Linked DNA regions of Homo sapiens: region 1 is linked to region 2. Evidence: fine-mapped expression QTL. A gene starts in region 2. The other region holds a variant in brackets. All regions are shown on one strand. Distances are between the middles of the regions. Region 1 holds the start of LOC124900217 (collagen alpha-1(III) chain). Region 2 holds the start of CCDC28A (coiled-coil domain containing 28A).

What was found.
Region 1: its variant is fine-mapped to the expression of CCDC28A in whole blood (TOPMed, PIP above 0.99).

Annotation. Positions count from the first base shown.
Region 1 is chr6:138,684,133-138,693,592 of GRCh38, reverse strand. LOC124900217 (collagen alpha-1(III) chain) reads right to left here and starts at 867. Exons shown (of 2, transcript XM_047419637.1): 1 at 1-867. The coding sequence starts at 830. NHSL1-AS1 (NHSL1 antisense RNA 1) reads right to left here and starts at 1,925. Exons shown (of 4, transcript NR_033896.1): 1 at 1,625-1,925. It also overlaps a transcript of NHSL1 not described here. RefSeq lists silencers at 79-218, 259-318, 799-1,148, 1,159-1,208 and an enhancer at 1,331-2,530. The variant A/G (reference allele first, on the strand shown) is at 5,191.
Region 2 is chr6:138,768,583-138,777,775 of GRCh38, reverse strand. It overlaps CCDC28A (coiled-coil domain containing 28A), which reads right to left and starts at 4,007. Exons shown (of 6, transcript NM_015439.3): 1 at 3,874-4,007; 2 at 1,498-1,697. The coding sequence starts at 1,655. CCDC28A-AS1 (CCDC28A antisense RNA 1) reads left to right here and starts at 4,073. Exons shown (of 3, transcript NR_161205.1): 1 at 4,073-4,261. RefSeq lists enhancers at 3,695-3,754, 4,115-4,174, 4,195-4,244, 3,608-4,281, 4,282-4,956 and 1 more.

The sequences.
Region 1 (9,460 bases), 84 kb after region 2:
GGCGTTCCCCGCGGGGCGGGGCGCTCCTGACTGCGGAGCGCCGTGGGCAGGGGCGCAGGTGAGCAGAGCGAGCGGAGCTGGCCGCGGCCGTCCTGGCGCCTCCGCCCTCCCGGCGCCCGCACTGCGCTGCACCCCGGCCCGGGGGGCGGGCGAGGGCTCTGCCCCACCGCCCGGGGGCTGCCAAGGGGAGTTGGGGCGGCGACGTGGGCGTCCCGGGACTGTGCGCCCGCACCCGCCCCGACAGGGTGCGCTGAGGCGCCGGGGCCGCCACTGGCTGCGGGCGCTGGGCGCGGCAGCCGCGGGAGCCGCAGGTGGTTCCCGGGCCGGCCCTTTTCTCCTCCCCCTTTCCTTTCTTTCGCCTCCCCTCCCTCTCGCCCGGTGTCGGCGGCACTTCCCTCGCTTCCTCCTCCCTCTCCAATCCGGAGGGAGGGAAGGAGCAGCCGGCGCTTTCCTGCCCGCCTGCAAACTTCAGCGGGACTCGCGGCTCCCCTCGCCGCCGCGGCCGCCGCCGCCCAGAGCTGCCCCTGGAACTTCCTCTCGCCGCGCGGCCCGCGAAGCCCTGCGGGTGGAGGAACGCCGCCGGGCGCCAGGCAGCCACGGCTCGGACCCCATTCCTGCCCCGCGCCGCCCGGGTGCCCGCTCGCCCGCGCGCCCGTCCGTCCGTCCGTCCTTCCTGCCCGCCCGGCCTCTCCCCTGCGGGCAGGGGCCGCCAGGCTTCCCTCGGCGCCCCGCCGCTGCCCGGGACTTCCTTTGTGTTGGATGCAGGCTGGCGCCCCGCGCCGACGGGAGGCAGACTGAGGGATCCCGCGCCGCCGGCCCGCCCCCGCCATGCCCTTCCACCAGAGGACCCTGGAGCCCGCGCGGCTGCGCCGGCCCGAGGCGGCGGGGGCCGGGGCTGCGGGCGCGCCACTCTTCCGCTCGCTGGAGCAGGTCAGCTCGCATGCCCTGGGCTGCCTGCTGGCGCAGCTGGCCGACCTGTCGCGCTGCGCCGGGGACATCTTCGGCGAGCTCGAGGGCCAGGCGGCCGCGCTGGGCCACCGCACCGCCGCGCTGCACCGCCGCCTCGACGCCCTGCAAGCCGCCGCTGCGCGCCTGGACCACCGCCGAGTGAAAATCCGTGAGTGGCCGGCGGGCCGGGGGAGGGGAACCGGCGGGGGAGGCACCCGGAGAGCTGCTCCCGCCCGCCCCCTGGCGGCCCTGGGTCGGCGCGGGGGCCGCGGAGCCCCGCGATGTCGGGGTCTCCAGTGGGGACTGCCGGACCCCAGCGGGAGGCTGGGCAGGTGGCAGGGGCGCAGAGCGCTCTGTGACTTTCGGACTCCTGGAGGGTCTTGGCTACCTCGAGAGAGTGGGCGCGGAGGGTGGGAATTGGACAGTCCCCTTGTCTGCTCCTTCTGTCTGTCTGTGTCTGTCTGTTTGGGAGACCCCGGGGCGCTGTAGACAGAGGAGAGCCAAGTTCGTGGGAAAACTGTCACAGGCAGGTAGCCTGTTGGAAAAGCCAGGGGAGAATATAAATTTGGGCATATAGTAGTTACAGTTTTGGAGACTTCAGGACGATCCGTTTGTAAAACCCTGGGGATCTCGGCGAGCGTTGGGGCTGCTTGCCACCTCTCTTCCCGCCGCCTACCTGTGTTCTTACCGACAAGCAAAACTATGCAGACTTTAAGGGTTTTCCCATTTGGCGCAGAATTTTCTTTCTTCTCCCAGACTGACCCACCAGCTCTTTGTGATTCAGAAGACGTTGACCTTGAGTTCAGGCTCTGAATCCCATTCATCTTTGTCCGGCTTCCTCCAACCCTGAAAGTCAAGTCTATGTCCTGATATAGTGATCTCTCCGGTGATCCATTTCATTTCAGCAGCTTAACTGGCTCCGGTGAATGAAGCAACTGGAATTTCCTGCTGGCCCAAAGCAGAGAAACTTTCAGTGTGATGTCTCTGTGGTTTCTCCCTTTTAAGTACGTGAACTTGGTCATAATCCTAAGTGTAAAGAATAAATTGGAGATGGTTGATGGATTGCTGGGTGGGAGGGGAGATGTTGATGTAACACACGCCTAGATTTCAGCAGCTCTGGATGAAATAGTTTTTTCTCCTAGAATCACTTCATATGCAATCTCGAATAGCTCGTTTTCCAGCTAGCTAGAAAAACTTAGCTATATTTTAACTACCTTACAGCCTAAGAGTTCAAAATTTTCAATTATTTAATTTCAGTGAGATTGCTTGCTATAATACATCTTTCTCCAAGTTGTATAATTAATTCGTGGCAGTTTTACATTTTTGCGTTCATCTCTTTGATTGTGCCGTCAACACATTCATATGAATTGTGGACAGTTCCCAACCTGGGAGAGCGTCCCCCTCCAAGAAAAAAAAATCAGTGGGGAGGAATCAAAGTGATCTCATAAGGTTGTTGACATAATCAGAATATATCTACTTAATGTGAGTGATGACTTCATGCATATGGTAGGATACACTGTCCTAGTAGGATGTCATGGTCTATGCGGCAATCACGAGTTGCTTCTATGCGTTTTCTGTCTAGGGTGTAGGTACGTGGGAGAACCAGAATTTTACCCTTGACAAAGAATGTGATGAGGGAGATCTGATTGATAGGTGAACTGATCTATTGTGGGAATTAAAAAACAAGAGGAAACTCCCTGAAGGTCAAGAACTCCTTCCTTTACTAGTTTGGTTTTACATTTAAATGTATCACTTTTCTCTGTTCTTTAGTACATATGCCCCAATAGGCTACTGTCCATAGCCAGAAATCCCCCAAATTCTCCATATTAACTAAGGTTGTTCTAATTACAGTAACTGAAATAACTCTTTTCAAAACTTTTCACAAGTTTGTTTGAATCTTAAGTGGTTGTGATTTCATACCTGTCTTCCAGGCTGGAGTGCTGTGGTGCAATCTCAGCTCACTGCACCCTCCGCCTCCTGGGTTCAAGCAATCCTCCTGCCTCAGCCTCTAGAGTACCTGGGATTACAGGCGCCCGCCACCACGCCCGGCTAATTTTTGTATTTTTAGTAGAGACAGGGTTTCGCCATGTTTGTCAGGCTGGTCTTTAACTCCCAACCTCAGGCGATCCACCTGCCTCGACCTCCCAAAGTGCTGGGATTACAGGTGTGAGCTACCACACGTGGCCCCATTTTTTTTTTTTTAATAATCATGCAAGAAGGCTTTTTATTGAATATAATTATGCCTGAGTATAAATGTACATGTAGAGAAGAAAGCTGACTATCAAGACATTAATTTTTGTGGTTTCTTTCACCTTCACACACTTTGCTTTTTTATGTGCTTAAAAGCAGTGAAATGCCTATGCATTACCATCTGTTAGGATTCTTTTAAAACAATGCCTCAAACCTTGTTTCTGTGTAAAAACTACAGTTTGAAGTTGTTCTGCCATTTTAGGCAGGTCTTCAGAATATCATACTCCATTAGTATGGATGGCTAGACTTTTAGACTTGGAATTGACCGTAAAGGCCATCCATTTCGTGAATTCTTACCCAGAGAGGAAATCCAGTCCAACAGCATTGCAGTTAATTCACCCCAGGTTAGGCTGTGGGTAATGACACATCCGGGCCTGAAGCCCAAACCTTCTGATTGTCTCGCCTGTCGTCCCACTGCCTGTGTTCCTTCCCTTTAGAAGAGTGTGGAGCCAGGCACAGTGGCTCATGCCTGTAATCCCAGCACTTTGGGAGACCAAGGTGGGCGGATCATTTGAGGCTAGGAGTTCAAGATCAGCCTGGCCAACATGGCGAAACCCCGTCTCTACCAAAAATACAAAAATTAGCGAGACTGTCTCAAAAAAAAAAAAGGTGTGGAAATGGGGAGCAAAGTTTAGATATGTTCCTTAAACAGTCCTAAGGATAACTGTGACCGTTAATTCCACCCTTCTTGTCAGATAAACCATTTAATGAGTCTCCCCAGGAGCAATTAACAGAATCCAGCAGTTTACCAAAAGCCTCTAGCAGTTGGGGACAGCATATTTCAGTGACCAATAATAGCTTTCTACCATAAGAAAGGATGTGAGAATGTCAGTGGAACAATTTAAAAAAATGTATAAACACTCTTTGCAATACAGAGACAGTATTTTAGTCCTGTGGGCTGGCCCTGCTGGCCTCAATGATCCTGAGAGGTATTTCATCAAGTTTGCCATTCCTCAAAATCTCATGGGTAGAAAGTTATCCAAAATAATTTTTTGTCATGCCTTGGGGAGAATGCATGTTATTATTCTGTTCATTGAAGACTCCTACTTTCTTTCCCTGACACCCCCAGGTTGAGGGGCTGTTCCCATGGCATTGGTTCACCTCGATCACCACATTTACCAAGGGGACTTCTGCACCCCTCTGCCAGACAGCAGGACCTTTGAGGTCCAGGATGGCCGAGTCTTTGTTTTTCTAGAGCTTAGAACAATGCCTGGATGTGATAGCTCAATAGATGTTTGAATTGAATTAATACTTAGTGACTTAGTGCTTACTGTCAGGAAGAATAACTATAAAAACCTTAGGGAGGAAGGAGGATGGATCTTTTGAGGCAGGTGGATCAGTTGAGGCCAGGAGCTCAAGACTAGCCTGGCCAATATGTTGAAACCCCGTCCCTACTAAAAATACAGTACTAAATACAATACTAAGTACAAGTACAAAAATACAATACTAAAAATACAATACTGCTACCAATGTAAGTGATCGAGACAATTACTTTACAAAAATAAAAATGTAAACTTTCTGCCTTTAATGTTTAGTGCTTAACCACCAATCTCTGCTCCTGTCTGTAAAAGTCAGACTTCATTAATTTTGCTGACACAGTAAGTTCTCATGGAAAATAGTGACAACAGCCAGCAATGTGAATAGTTACATCTTGGCTCTGTAAATATCAAAACAGACTTTGCTAAGCAGAAATCAATAGACACTCGATCAAATAGTCTGTTTCTATTTTTTTATTTTTATTTTAATTTTTTTGAGATGGAGCCTTACTCTGTCGCCCAGGATGGAGTGCAGTGGCGTGATCTCAGCTCACTGCAACCTCTGCCTCCCGGGTTCAAGCAATTCCCTGCCTCATCCTCCTGAGTAGCTGGGATTACAGATGCCCACCACCATGCCTGGCTAATTTTTGTATTTTTAGTAGAGATGGGGTTTCACCATCTTGACCAGGCTGGTCTTGAACTCCTGACCTCGTGATCCACCCGCCTCGGCCTCCCA[A/G]AGTGCTGAGATTACAGGCGTGAGCCACTGTGCCTGGCCCCTGTTTTTATTTTTAAGCCCTGTGTGATTGGGTTTTCTTTCTCTTTAAAAATAGTTTTGTTGAAATAAAATTTACACACCATACAATTCACCCACTTAAAGCATACTGTTTGGCCGGGTGGAGTGGCTCACACCTGTAATTACAGTACTTTGGGAGGCCAAGGTGGGCCGATCACTTGAGGCCAGGAGTTCGAGACCAGCCTGGCCAACATGGCGAAACTCTGTCTCTACTAAAAATACAAAAATTAGCTGGGCATAGGGGCACATGCCTGTAATCTCAGCTACTTGGGAGGCTGAGGCATGAGAATGACTTGAACCCAGGAGGTGGATATTGTAGTGACCCGAGATGGCGCCACTGCACCCCAGCCTGGGAGATAGAGCAAGACTCTGTGTCCCCAAAAAAAAAAAGTGTACAATTTAGGGGTTTTTAGTGTATTCACAGAGTTGTGCAACCATTACCACAATTTTAGAACATTTTTATCACCCCAAAAGAAACCCCATACTCATAACTAGTTATTCCCCATTTCCTGTCAACCCTCCCATTCCTAGGCAACCACTGATCTACTTTCTGCCTCTATAGATTTGACTTTTCTGGACATTTCATACAGATGGAATCATGTGCCTGGCTTTTTTTACTTAGCACAGTGAACTTTTCGAAGTTCATAATTTGTTTCTTTTTATAATTAAGACTTTTATGATTGAAAAAGTATCATTCATATTTATTACTTGATGAAAAACCTTGTGAGATAGGAGGGAAGGCCAGGTTATATTATACACACTTATTACTTTTTAATTGATACATAATAATTGTACATATTTAACATTGTACATTTGCAAATACAGTCTTTGCATAAACAGGACTGAGAATTTGGCAGACACAGTAGGCTCATAGTTCTGAGGAGTATTTTAGGTGTTGAGATGCATTCTCATACCTCACAACAGACTGTCCCCTCACCTAACCAGAGGGTTGGCTGGTCCTGATGTCAGAATATCTTTGCTTCTTCCTCAGAACGCAAGGCACTTGTCAGAGTTCTAAAGACAGAGTGTTCACTGCACTTCGTCTTCTTCTTCTTTTTTTTTTTTTAATTTAAAAAGAGATGAGGTTTCCATACGTTGTGCAGGCTGGTCTGGAACTCCTGGGCTCAAGCGATCCTCCCTCCTTGGCCTCCCAAAAGAGCTGGGATTACTGGTGTGAGCCACCGTGTCTGACTGACTGCATAAGAATAGGTTGTATGGCTGTTTTTGTGTCTGACTACTCATAAATGTTTGGCGAAATTGGCATAAGATTTGCTTTCATTGACACATACCACATGCTAGAGAGGATGTTGGTGGCTGTGTGGCCCGCACCCCCCTCTAATCCCAGTCCCTCAATTTATTAAGAGAAACTGACAGTAGCTGAGTGGTCAGATTGCACCATCAGGTTAAGGAGGCGAGGTGATTCCTATACTTGACTAACTTTAAGAACTGCTTGGAACTTTCGTTAAAATTAGAGATTCCCAGACCCTTCCAAAGCCCTGTTGAGCCAGAGTCTCCAGTATGTTTAACAATGCCATGCTGTCCTTTGGCCAGGCAAATTGAGAAGCACTGCAATCGTCTAGAAAGCTCATTGGATTAGGAATTGGGAGACCTGAGCTTGGCTTCACCTCTGCCATTTTCTAACACAGATTTTGAGCAATTTATTCAACACCTCAAGGCCTTAGTTTTCATATCTGTAAACAGAGACCTTGACAAAAATAATCTCTACTGGCCTTTCCAATTTTGGCGTTTTGTGATTCTACTGAGGGATTTAAAAAGTTTTAATTTATTTTGACAAAATAAATAGGAAAATTAAAGTTGCATGTATTTATGGGAAACAACTATTTTATTTTATTATTATTTTTTTAGACAGGATCTGGCTGTTGCCCAGGCTGGAGTTCAATGGCTCAAATGATCCTCCCACCTCAGCCTCGCTAGTAGCCTGGACTATAGGCACATGCCACCATGCCAGGCTAATTTTTACATTTTTAATAGAGACAGGGTTTTACTGTGTTGCCCAGGCTGGTTTCAAACTCCTGGGCTCAAGCATCTGCCCGTTTTGGCCTCCCAAAATGCTAGGATTCCAGGTGTGAGCCACTGTGCCCCACCAACATGATGTTTATATATTGTGGCATGGGTTAATCAAGCTAATTAACATATAGGCATTATCTCACATACTCTTTTTTTTTTGGTAAGAACACTTACAAGTATGCAATACATGTTATTAGCTATGGTCACCATGTTGATTATAGATCTCTTGAACTTATTCCTCTTAACAGAAATTTTGTATCTTTTGACCAATATCTCTCCAATACCTTCTTCCTACAGCCCTTGGTAACCATCATTGTACTCTCTGCTTCTATGAGTTTCATTTTGACTATTTGATAATACTATATGAAGTGGATACCCTTATTTCTGTGTGACAGATGATATAGCTAAGGCACAAATAATTTGTTTGCCCATGTTGATAGCTGGTAAGCAATGGAGCTGGGCTTTGAATCCAGACAGGGTTCAAGTTCAGATGAATTTGTAAGTACAACTTTGATAAATAATCTCTTTGATTCTTTTGATGAGGGATTAAAAAAAAAACTTTGTGTCTGAAATAAACTCTTCATGACTCTATGGACTCTTTACATTAAAAAATTATTTATTTATTTATTTTCAGAAATTGATGTCTCACTGTGTTGCTTAGGCTCATCTCAAACTCTGGCCTCAAGCAATCCTCCCACCTTGGCCTCTCAAAGTACTGGGATTATAGGGGTAAGCCAGCACACCCAGCCTGTATGGGCTCTTTTAGCTAATATTTTATTCACATAGAGTGCGTGGATCGTCACATGTTGAGGGATTAGTCACTTGCCAAGCAGATCAGGCAGGTACTTGTTTCTAATTTGTGTATATTCTGCCCACAATACATTCATAGCTTCCTCCTCAGCTTTAAAAAGTGCAATGTCATTATGGAAAGAGAATTATGTTTAAATGCATTTGCCAAATATTCAGATTTCTAGGAGAGTTATTTTTTGAATTATGAGAGTATATCCTTTAAATCAAAACATCAGTCTCCTCATTGACTCTTGGGTATTGGGAAAATGATAACCTGCTTAAAAAGCTACCTACATTTAGGTTGAAATTATTTATCTAGCCGTAATCTAGTTTTCTGCTATATTAAAGAAAACCCTAATATTAACATTTTAGCTGTATATATTTTAAAATCGAGAATAGCAAATGAAAAAATTTAACAAAAGAGAAACATTTGAGTTTCTTAATATTTTGGGGAGAAAATTCAGAAACAAAACTAATGCAATATTTGCCTCTGGCAGTCATTTTATTATGTTTAAAAAACCAAGTTTTTCCAGCAGTGAAGGTGTAAAAAGAAAAAAAAAATCGTTATAAGTATAAAATAAAATGACTTGCACCTAACTAGGCCCCTAGTAACTTACTTAATTCTGTTTCTCCTCAAATTGGTTTCTATCCTGGAATGAATGACTTCTGCAGGAACTGAAGTTCAGATGCAGCAGGAGGGTACTGACCGCCATCTTGTTCCACATGCCGGTTTCATTTGTGGTCTGCACTTGTCACAGTGTGCACTTCAGCTGCACTTTGGGCAAAGGTAGAAGAGCTGGAGCTTCTGTGTTTGACTGAGGAACTCTCTGAGAAAAGGAGCTTACAGGCCCCCCATGTTTGTTTGTTTGTTTGTTTGTTTTTCTGAGACGGAGTCTCACTCTGTTGCCCAGGCTAGAATGCAGTGGCGCGATCTTGGCTCACTGCAACCTCTGCCTCCCGGGTTCAAGTGATTCTTCTGCCTCAGCCTTCTGAGTAGCTGGGATTACAGGCGCACGCCACCACGCCCAGCTAATTTTGTATTTTTAGTAGAGATGGGGTTTTGCCATGTTGGCCAGGCTGGTCTTGAACTCCTGACCTTGTGATCCGCCCGCCTTGGCCTCCCAAAGTGCTGGGATTACAGGCTTGAGTCACCGCGCCCACAGGCCTCCCCCTTTTTTTGGACAAATGATGTGTCTATGAAAGCCTTTGGCATTATTCAAACAAAATATGTCATTACTGTTACCAATATCAAGGCAGTAGCATAATTCTGCTTTCTGATGTCAGACTGTCTTTGCAGGGATTTTTTTTTTTTTTTTTGAGAGGGAGTCTTGCTCTGTCTCCCAGGCTGGAGTGCAGTGGTGAGATCTCGGCTCACTGCAACCTCTGCCTCCTGGGT
Region 2 (9,193 bases):
CATTTAATAACCCTCTCAGAAAACAAACACAAAAGATAAAACAAAAACCTGTTTATTCCTGCTTCAATGTTATGTCACACTCTCACTTTATGTTAACATAATTCAACAATAAAGCAAGCACACAGTGAAATAATACTATGTGCAAAGCCCCACTGTAAGTTCTGTCAGGCACACAATGATGATCCAGAGAGTCCTGGCCCTCAGAAGCCTACATCTACAAGAGGGTATGGAAATAAAACCACCAATAAAAATGACAATGATACAAATAAACTGCTTTTAAAAATATAGAGAAAGGAGTGATTACTTTTAAAATCTCTTCGTTTTCTTTTTCCACCAACTGTAAACTTATTCAAAATCTGACCCTAATTAAACTCTTCCATGACAAAAACCCCATTCTGATAATTTATTCGAAGGAAATCCTCAAAACTGCTGTTTATCATTTGGTACTCATTGGAATACTTCTTCCAAATCTTCTCTTGTCTTTGGTTATGTCCCTTCTGTTTCGACAAAGAGAGATCATCATCAAGGCAGTAATCTCATCTTTTATTAGGTGTAAACCCAGCGGCTACAGAATGCAACAGGCATTTCCTTAGCTAACTTGCCAGGGTGAGATTGGATGTGAGAGTAAATTTATTTAATAATTAGAAAGAAGATTGACATTATACAACACTTTTTTTCCTCTAAAGCTATAATCTTCCCTTCCAAATATCTAATACTATAAAATACTCACATATATGTAACAGTAACATATAACATAGTTAAACTTGTCACTTCTGTTTCCTTTAAATATCCTGAATGCAAATGATGTTCACCAAATATTAATAATGATTATTTCTAGGTGGTAGAATTTTTGCATTTTGAATTTCTTCTTTGAATTTTTCCTGTGTTTGAATATTTATAAAAAACACAGTTTATACAAAAACAATGACACCATTATTTTTTAGAAATAAAAACTGCAAGCTGGGTGTGGTGTCACACCACACAGTCACAGCCCCTCAGAAGACTGAGGCAGGAGGATCCCTTGAGCCCAGAGGTTCAAGGCCGGCCTGGGCAACACAGTGAGACCCCATATTTAAAAATATATATATATATGTGTGTGTGTAAAATAAAATAAATTAAGAAAACTACCAAGGCACAAACACTCAGCTTAGAGAAAAAAGAGAGAAAGAAAGAAAGAGAACAAAAAACCCTGCTGACTTTCTTTCACTTTTTCACTTTTCCCATTTCTGACTAGCTCATCAACACAGTCAAAAAGTTTTCTTGTTTTGTATATTTTAATATAAGACAAAGTAAGGGCCTTCAAACCAATAATTCATTTTGCATTTTCTAATATCTATACACCGTAACTTTCATAAATTTTTCTTCTAAATCACGCATAATGGGTGCCTCAACTGTTTTAAAAGTCAAGCCAAGACTAAAAAAGTGTTTAAGAAGAAGTTGAGTCAGGATTTACTTTAATGGCATTTTACTGTGAACATGTAAAATAAAAGAATTCACCTTTTTAACTTTGGTCGCTGTGAAGTTGACTGTGATGCAGGATTTGAAAACCCTGTGCTTTTACTCACTGGAATGGCATTTTTTTTGGCATTGACAACCTGAGTACAGTGGGCACTAAAAGACTTAGGACTCCTCCTCTTCACTTTCCGCTCTTCCATTGTTTTAAGTTCCTTATTGCACCACGGCCAGCTTCTTAAGACCTAAATAAGGAATACAGCAATTATATATGTATGCTATAATATGCAAACATGAAAGAAATTCAAAGACCCATTTCACAGGGTCAAAAGAGGATCAAGAATTCCAGAGGGCATAAGAGAAAGTTAGAAAATGGGTCTCTTAAGTTTAATGTACTCTACTATGTACCCATAAGCCCCTAGCAAAATTGTCTGGTAGACAGTTTTTGTTTTGTTTTGTTTTACCATTTTCTTTATTTCTTCATCCTACAAATATTTACTGATTCTCTTCCACAAGCCAGACACTATTGTGGGTACTGGAGAGACGGCACTGAACAAGGTGTTTGACCTCAAGAAGCCTACATTTTACAAGGGGAACAACATATAAACAATAAACAAATGATCCACATAATATTCCCAGCCTGATTCAAGCTTCAGGTGGCCTTTAGGTCTTTCTTCCAAAATGTATGCTTAAGAAGAACCAAGTAGATTCAAACAGATGTATAATTGTCATAGGGATTTTACTAGCATTTTAAAAATCAACTAGAAGCCTTACTTCAACTACTAAACAGAAACTCAGTTTCTAGCTAGGGCTAATAATGATTCTAGCTTGGTGATAAGTGAAGTTCTAGAAAATCAAACTTGTTCGTTGCCTATTTTGAATATACTTTCTCTAACCATTTCCAAACAAACGTGAATTTTATGATATATATTTAGTTTTGCCCATATCAAAAAAGTTAACAATGTGAAGTTACAGATGGCCCTTCCATGCGGAATACGTGTAAGGCCTCCTAGTTATCCCTACACAATCCCCTTACTTTATCTATTAATCCGCTCTATTTTCTAACATCCATCTATTTAAAAAATACCCTTCCGGCCGGGCTCACGCCTGTAATCCCAGCACTTTGGAAGGCCAAGGCGGGCGGATCACGAGGTCAGGAGATCGAGACCATCCTGGCTAACACGGTGAAACCCCGTCTCTACTAAAAATACAAAAAATTAGCCGGGAGTGGTGGCGGGCGCCTGTAGTCCCAGCTACTCAGGAGGCTGAGGCAGGACAATGGCATGAACCCGGGAGGCGGAGCTTGCCCTGAGCCGAGATGGTGCCACTGCGACAGAGCGAGACTCCGTCTCAAAAACAAAACAAAACAAAACAAAACAAAACAAAAAAACCCCTTCCATACTTTATTTGTGCATAGTGTTAAATTTTTCTTAACTTCATTATTTCATATATCATAAGATGAATTTATATGGCTATCTCTACCTCATCAGGTTGTAAATTGCCTTCTAGAAACATTAGGCCGTTTTTGGCATGCTGTGTTTAATTTAGGCATGCCATGACCATTCAAAAAGATTCAAACCCATTGCTGTCGCTTAAAATAATTATTTGATGAATTCAATAAATTTTTCTTTTTCCTTTTGCCTGGACTTAGTGCCACTGGCACTGGAATTTAAACCACTGAGCTTAAATTGGCTGACGCTAGACAATTACAACTGGAGCTACAATACTGCCAAAGAAGAGGCTTTCTGGGAAAGGCTCCAATGCCCAGTCTCTAATCCCAGATACCACTGGGTGTCAATCCACTTAAACCTTGGCTAACAATTTTTCTTTTAAGAAGCATTTTTTGTAACAGAACAATAATTCTGGTGTTGTTTCAACATGCAACACAAATTAAATGAGAGTTTGAAAGATGACTGAATAGAGACGATTAGTTCTCTGAAGAGGCAAGGATCTGTAAAAATGTATGATACGCATAAACACGCTGGCCTGAAATTTAACGATGCTAATACACACTTGGTGGTACAAGAAAAAAAAATCTAGGAAGTAAAGCAATGCAAATAAACCAGTGGTGGTCTAAACCACAATATTCTGCGGAGCCAGCACTCGCGATTTCCTCGTTTTTGGAAAATTACATCTGTCACAAGAGCACTGAAACCCTTCCTGTATATCAAACAGCAAAGAATGTTTTAGAGAAGGCATAATAAGTAAACTGCTCATAGTTACTTATTCACACAGTGGTTTTAAGTGCCAGGTCTTGCCTCCAAGCAGTACCACTGGGCATCCCTCTTGACATCACCTCATTCCCCTTCCCCAATCTACCGAAGCGATGACCCTTCACCGCCCAGTACCCAGCAGTGACCAGAGTGGTGGGAAGGGCCTAAAGGGGCAGGTTGCGGAGGTTCCTTTGCTTCCACTACATACCTGAAGAAGAAGGGTATTGGGGCCCCCTTCCGCAACCCGCAAAGACCCGACAGCCTCAGAAGCCACCGCCGCAGCCACAAGCAGAGCCCCGGTCACATCCCGGGACCCGCTCCTCCGCAGCTCCGTTTGTTTACGGAAGTGACGTAAGAGGTACAGCCTCCATGCCCCAAGCGGAAGCCCCGCCTTTTCCTGCTCCCCCAGTGTCGCTCTTGGCTCCGCCCTCGGCATTTCATTGCTTCCCCTGTCCTTCCTTTAGCTGTAACTCCGGCGGGCGTGTTGGGTGTGTCGTTTTAGGCTCTGTGACCCAGGAGCAAGACGCAATAAGCGGGTGCAGTGGAGGTAGAAACGGGAAATGCAGTACCCTTTCCGGAAGCTACTCCGCCCCTCGGTGAGTGTTAGATTCCCCCCCCGAACTACAATTCCCAGAATGCTGTTCGAGCATGCCCGAAGGCGGAACCAGAGTGTCGCCATGCAACTGTTCCTTGGTTGTTTCCGATTGGTTGCCCGGACTTCTCGCGGCTAAACTAATTTTGGCTCCAAGGCGGCGTGAAGAGTGTGATTCTGTTCAGCGACCGTGATTCTGTTCAGCGACCATGATGTTGAGCCCCTAATTGAGAGTCTGTTACCACTATTAATAGCTACTCTGTTCGGGCCCTACACATAACGGTGTATCTAAACCTCTCTACAATTTTATGGGTAGGTGTTATACTCTCTGTTTTACAAATGGGGAATTTGAGGCTCAGAAAGGCTAATTGATGCAGGTGTCTCTCTGTCGTCAAAGATAGTTCTACTTCCACTATACTTAAAGCCTCTGGAGAAGGAATTGCAGGCTGAGAGAAAGAGATCTATCTTAAATGAGGGAAGAAATGCACGTTTCATTGCCTGGTCTGGGTAGCCTTCCCGGTGTTGGAGTGGGAGGTGGGAAGGTTTTAGATTCACAGGTCCTTAGATTGAAGGGACTCTGGAGGAACACCACATAGCACCCCCCGCATTAGCTAATGGGGAAACCATATCTAGAGATTGTATCCATGCCAGAAAAGGCAGAGCAAAGACAACCCCAGTCTCTTGGCTTCTAGGATAGGATGTTCTTCCGCCACCCGCCATTTAAAAAAAAAAAACAAAACTATTGAAATGTTAAAAAAAAAAAGCACAGAATAAACAACGCACCCACTATCCAGAACGAACAGATTTATGAATGAAAGAAATGGAGCATTACAGATAAAGAAGGTGTTCCCTATTCTCAGTCCCATTCTACTACCACCCTCAGAGAGGCAACCAGGATCATGAATTTGATATGTATCTTGCCAATCTAGGTTTCTATATTTAAACTATTACTATGTATTATAAACAATATGTAGAATGGTTTGGGGCATTTGAAGTTTTACATGAATGCTATTATATTTTGTGTATTGATCTGCAACTTGATTTTTTCACCAAATTCTGTGTTTTTGAGAGCTATCCACATTGATAAATATAGCTAGACTTTATCAAATAGATTTGTCACAAATTATTTGGGAATTCCCATAGTGATGGATGTTTAGGTTGTTTCCCATTTTTCACCATTACAAACACTACTGTACAGTCTGCTCAATATCTTTTCCCAGTTTCTCCTTTTAATTAATGTCGAATTGTCTTATTTGTATGAACAGAGCTTGCAACTGGTGATTCACATGCTACTTTTTTTTTTTTCAAATTGGTTGCTAACAGCTAAAATTGAAAGAATAAAAACAATGTGGCATCCCATGAATTAACGGGAAGATCTGACTACGTTAGATGTGCATTGTAGCCTGGCAACAATGGTTCAAGCTGGAAAGCATCTGCCTCCTTTACCTCAGTTCAAGTAATATCTAGTTTTTCTTTGTCTTTAGTACCCATCTGAGCCCTGTAGCATTTGTGTTTACAACCTCCAACATGATGTAGGGACACAGGAAAGTACCCTTCTAAATGGACATGTTTCAGGTATTCAGAAATAGGTATTCAGGTTTTGAATACCTATTTTAAGTCCCTATTTTAGCCACACCCTGTGATAGGAGGTCAGGATGCATCTATCAACAAAAGGTACAAGAGCTTTATAGTCAGAGATCTTATATTCCCGATATAAGAGACTGACAATAAATTAGTATGCAAATAAAATAGTTTCATTTAGTCAGATGAGAGTCCTGAAATAACAGCTTAAGGTCAAAAGTAGTTTGTACTGAAGGAGAAGTATCAGGGAAGGCCTTCCCGAAAATGCAGCTTTGAGGTAGAGATATGAATAAAGTGCATGAGCCAGCCATGGAATGATCTGAGGAAAATGAGTCCTTGAGTGCCAGGCACGGTGGCTTTTGCCTGTAATCCAGCACTTTGGGAGGCTGAGGCAGACAAATAGCTTGAACCTAAGAGCTGGAGACCAGCCTAGGCAACATAGCAAAACCCTGTCTTTACAAGAAATACAAAAATTAGCTGGGCATGGTGATGCAGGCCTGTAGTCCCAGCTGCTTGAGTGGCTGAAGTGGGAGGATCACCTGAACCCAGGAGGTCAAGGCTGCAGTTAGCCATGATCATGTCACTGTGCTCCAGCCTGGGTTACAAAATGAGACCCTGTCTCAAAAAAATAAAAAAAAAATAAGAAGGAGAAGGAGAAGAAAAGAAGCATTCTTGAATAGAACATACGGCTAAAATGCAGGCCATTAGGCAAAATGAACTTTAACATGTTTGAGGAAGCAGAGGGTTAGTGAGGTGAATTGTACTGGGCTAGGGACAGAGTGACGCAAGATAGAGTTGTTGTAGAGGTACAGTTTCAAGTGTGATTTCTTTAATCTAAAATCTAGAGTTCCTCCCTGAGAGAAATGATCTTTCAGATTTTCTAGATTTTCCTTTAATTCCTTTAAACTGTAAGCATCCATTCTTTGGATTAACTGTTAAATGCAGACCTTGTATAAATTACTCCAATCATATACTTTCTTCCTGAGGATTATATTTAGAGGATGGGAGCTTTGATTAACAAGACCCTTCCCCTGCCTCCCAGTACTCATACATTGTATAGCATAGGTAGGTAAGGAGGAATACTGCTGGCGAATTTCCTAGTAGTGGCAGTGGAGAGCCATTGAGAGAAAAATCTGCTGGGGGCCCAGAAATCTCTATTTAAAAAAAATTTGTCTTATGGAAAATTTCAAACATATACTGAGGAAGACAGAAGACTATAATGAATCCCTCATCCAGCCATTAACCCCTGGCCAATGATGTCGATTATAGCTGTTACCAGTGACGTTGACCCTGATCCTTTATGGAATGGAATTTTTGTTATGTTATTTTTTAGGGTGCTATGAGGATAAGAAAAGAAACAGGCATTTGAGAAGAAAATTATAACCGAATTTATACTTATAAATTTTTGATATCATAATCTCAGGTGATTCACATGGACACGCGTAAACACACCCACAAGTGCAGCTAGAAGTAAATCACCCAGAAACTGTCATTGTCCTTGTACATTGTATATACAATGCAATCATTTCATACCTTGGCCAGAAAACTGTGATTTCTGTCTTGCAAAGCTGTATGTAGTAGATAATGTGATAACCTGTAATATTGATCTGATAAATATGTATTCAGATGAAACCTGTAAAAAAAAAAAGCCCCTCTTCTGACATTTTTCAGTCTCTAGTATTATGTTGAAGTAAATCTCAGATATAATTTAATCCCTAATATTTTAATATAGATTGCTAAAAGATTAAAACTTTTAAAGACTTCACCACAATGCCTTTATGATTCCTAAGCAGCAATGAATGATTAATGTTATTAAATATTCAGTAAGTATTCAAGTTTCCATTCGAATCAGAAGTGTCATAACTTTTTTCACATTTTACTTGAGTCAGGAACCTCTCTTTCTGTAAGGTCCTCAGGTGATGAATGGGTTTGGAAGCCTCTCTTGTACAGCCTCATTAGTTGAGCTACAAACATGCATTGTCCTTTCCCTTCAGAAAGTTAGGGCGCTATGAAAGCAGGAGTCCCCAGCCTCCAGCTGTAGACTGGAACTAGTCCGTGGCCTGTTAGGAACTGGGCCACACAGCAGGAGGTGAGCAGCCAGTGAGGGAGCATTACCACCTGAGCTCCCACCTACTGTCAGATCAGCAGTGGCATGAGATTCTCATAGGAGCCTGAGCCCTAATGTGAACTGCGCATGCAAGGGATCTAGGTGGGCGGTGGTCCTTATGAGAATCTAACGAAAGCCTGATGATCTCAGGTGGAACAGTTTCAGTTTCATCCCCAACCCCCACCCCGCCCCATCCATGGAAAGATTGTTTTCCACTAAACTGGTCCCTGGTGCCAAAAAGATTGGGGACTGTTGCTCTAAAGGGGAAGGCAGGTATCTCAAAGCAAATGGATACTCTCAGTGCCTGAAGCACAGTCATTCCTGTATTGTCCTTTGTGGTTCTTATAGGGAAGAGATGTTTTTTGTTTGTTTCTTGTTTTTGTTTGTTTTTACCCAGAAGCCTATCCATCATTTTCTAAGTGTGCTTCCACTTCCATTTCCCCTGATGCCGGAATGCCTTGGCCAAGATAGTAACTGCTTAATGCTTCTTTGCGTGTCTGGCTCAGGAAACAGCTAAGAAAAAAGATAAGAAGTCATAAAGCAGAAATGAGCTCGGCATGTTCACGGAACTGAAAGAATGCCAGCGTAGTGGTCTGGAGTGCAGGGGGACAAGAAGTAGTATGAGATGAAGTCCCCAAGGTTGCCAGAGGGTCAGGTCAGGAAGGGTTTTTTAAACCAATATAAGAAATCTGTATTTTTTCCCCTAAGCACAGCAATAGGCATTGGAGAGTTTTAAGGCATGACATGGTCTAAGTTACATTTTTAAAAGATTATTCTATAGAAGAATGGAAACAGGAAGGCCAGTTAAGAGAAATGGGCCATAGTGAGGTGTTATATAGGCTTGCTTTACAGCTCAGACCTGAAAAAATAAGTTATTTCAAAAGCCATACTGTACTATGACTACTATTATAAAACTTGGTAAGATTCCTTGAGACACCCTCTAAAAAGGGTGCCAAGAGACTGGATCTGAACTATCCAGCACTGAAGGCCTTCAGAGCTGTGCTATTGTAGATGAGCAAGCCTTTTGGGAACTGTTAATAGTGAAAGGAAGAACCACGTGGTGAAGAGCTGGGAGCCACCATTTATGGAGGAGCATGGTATGGTGTCATGGAAAGTGCACCAGACCGGGAGTTGGGGGAAACCCCATCTCTTGTCTACTCCAGGCTGTACACTTTTTTTTTTTTGAGACAGAGTCTCACTCTGTCACCAGGCTGGAGTGCAGTGGCAGAATCTTGGCTCACTGCAACC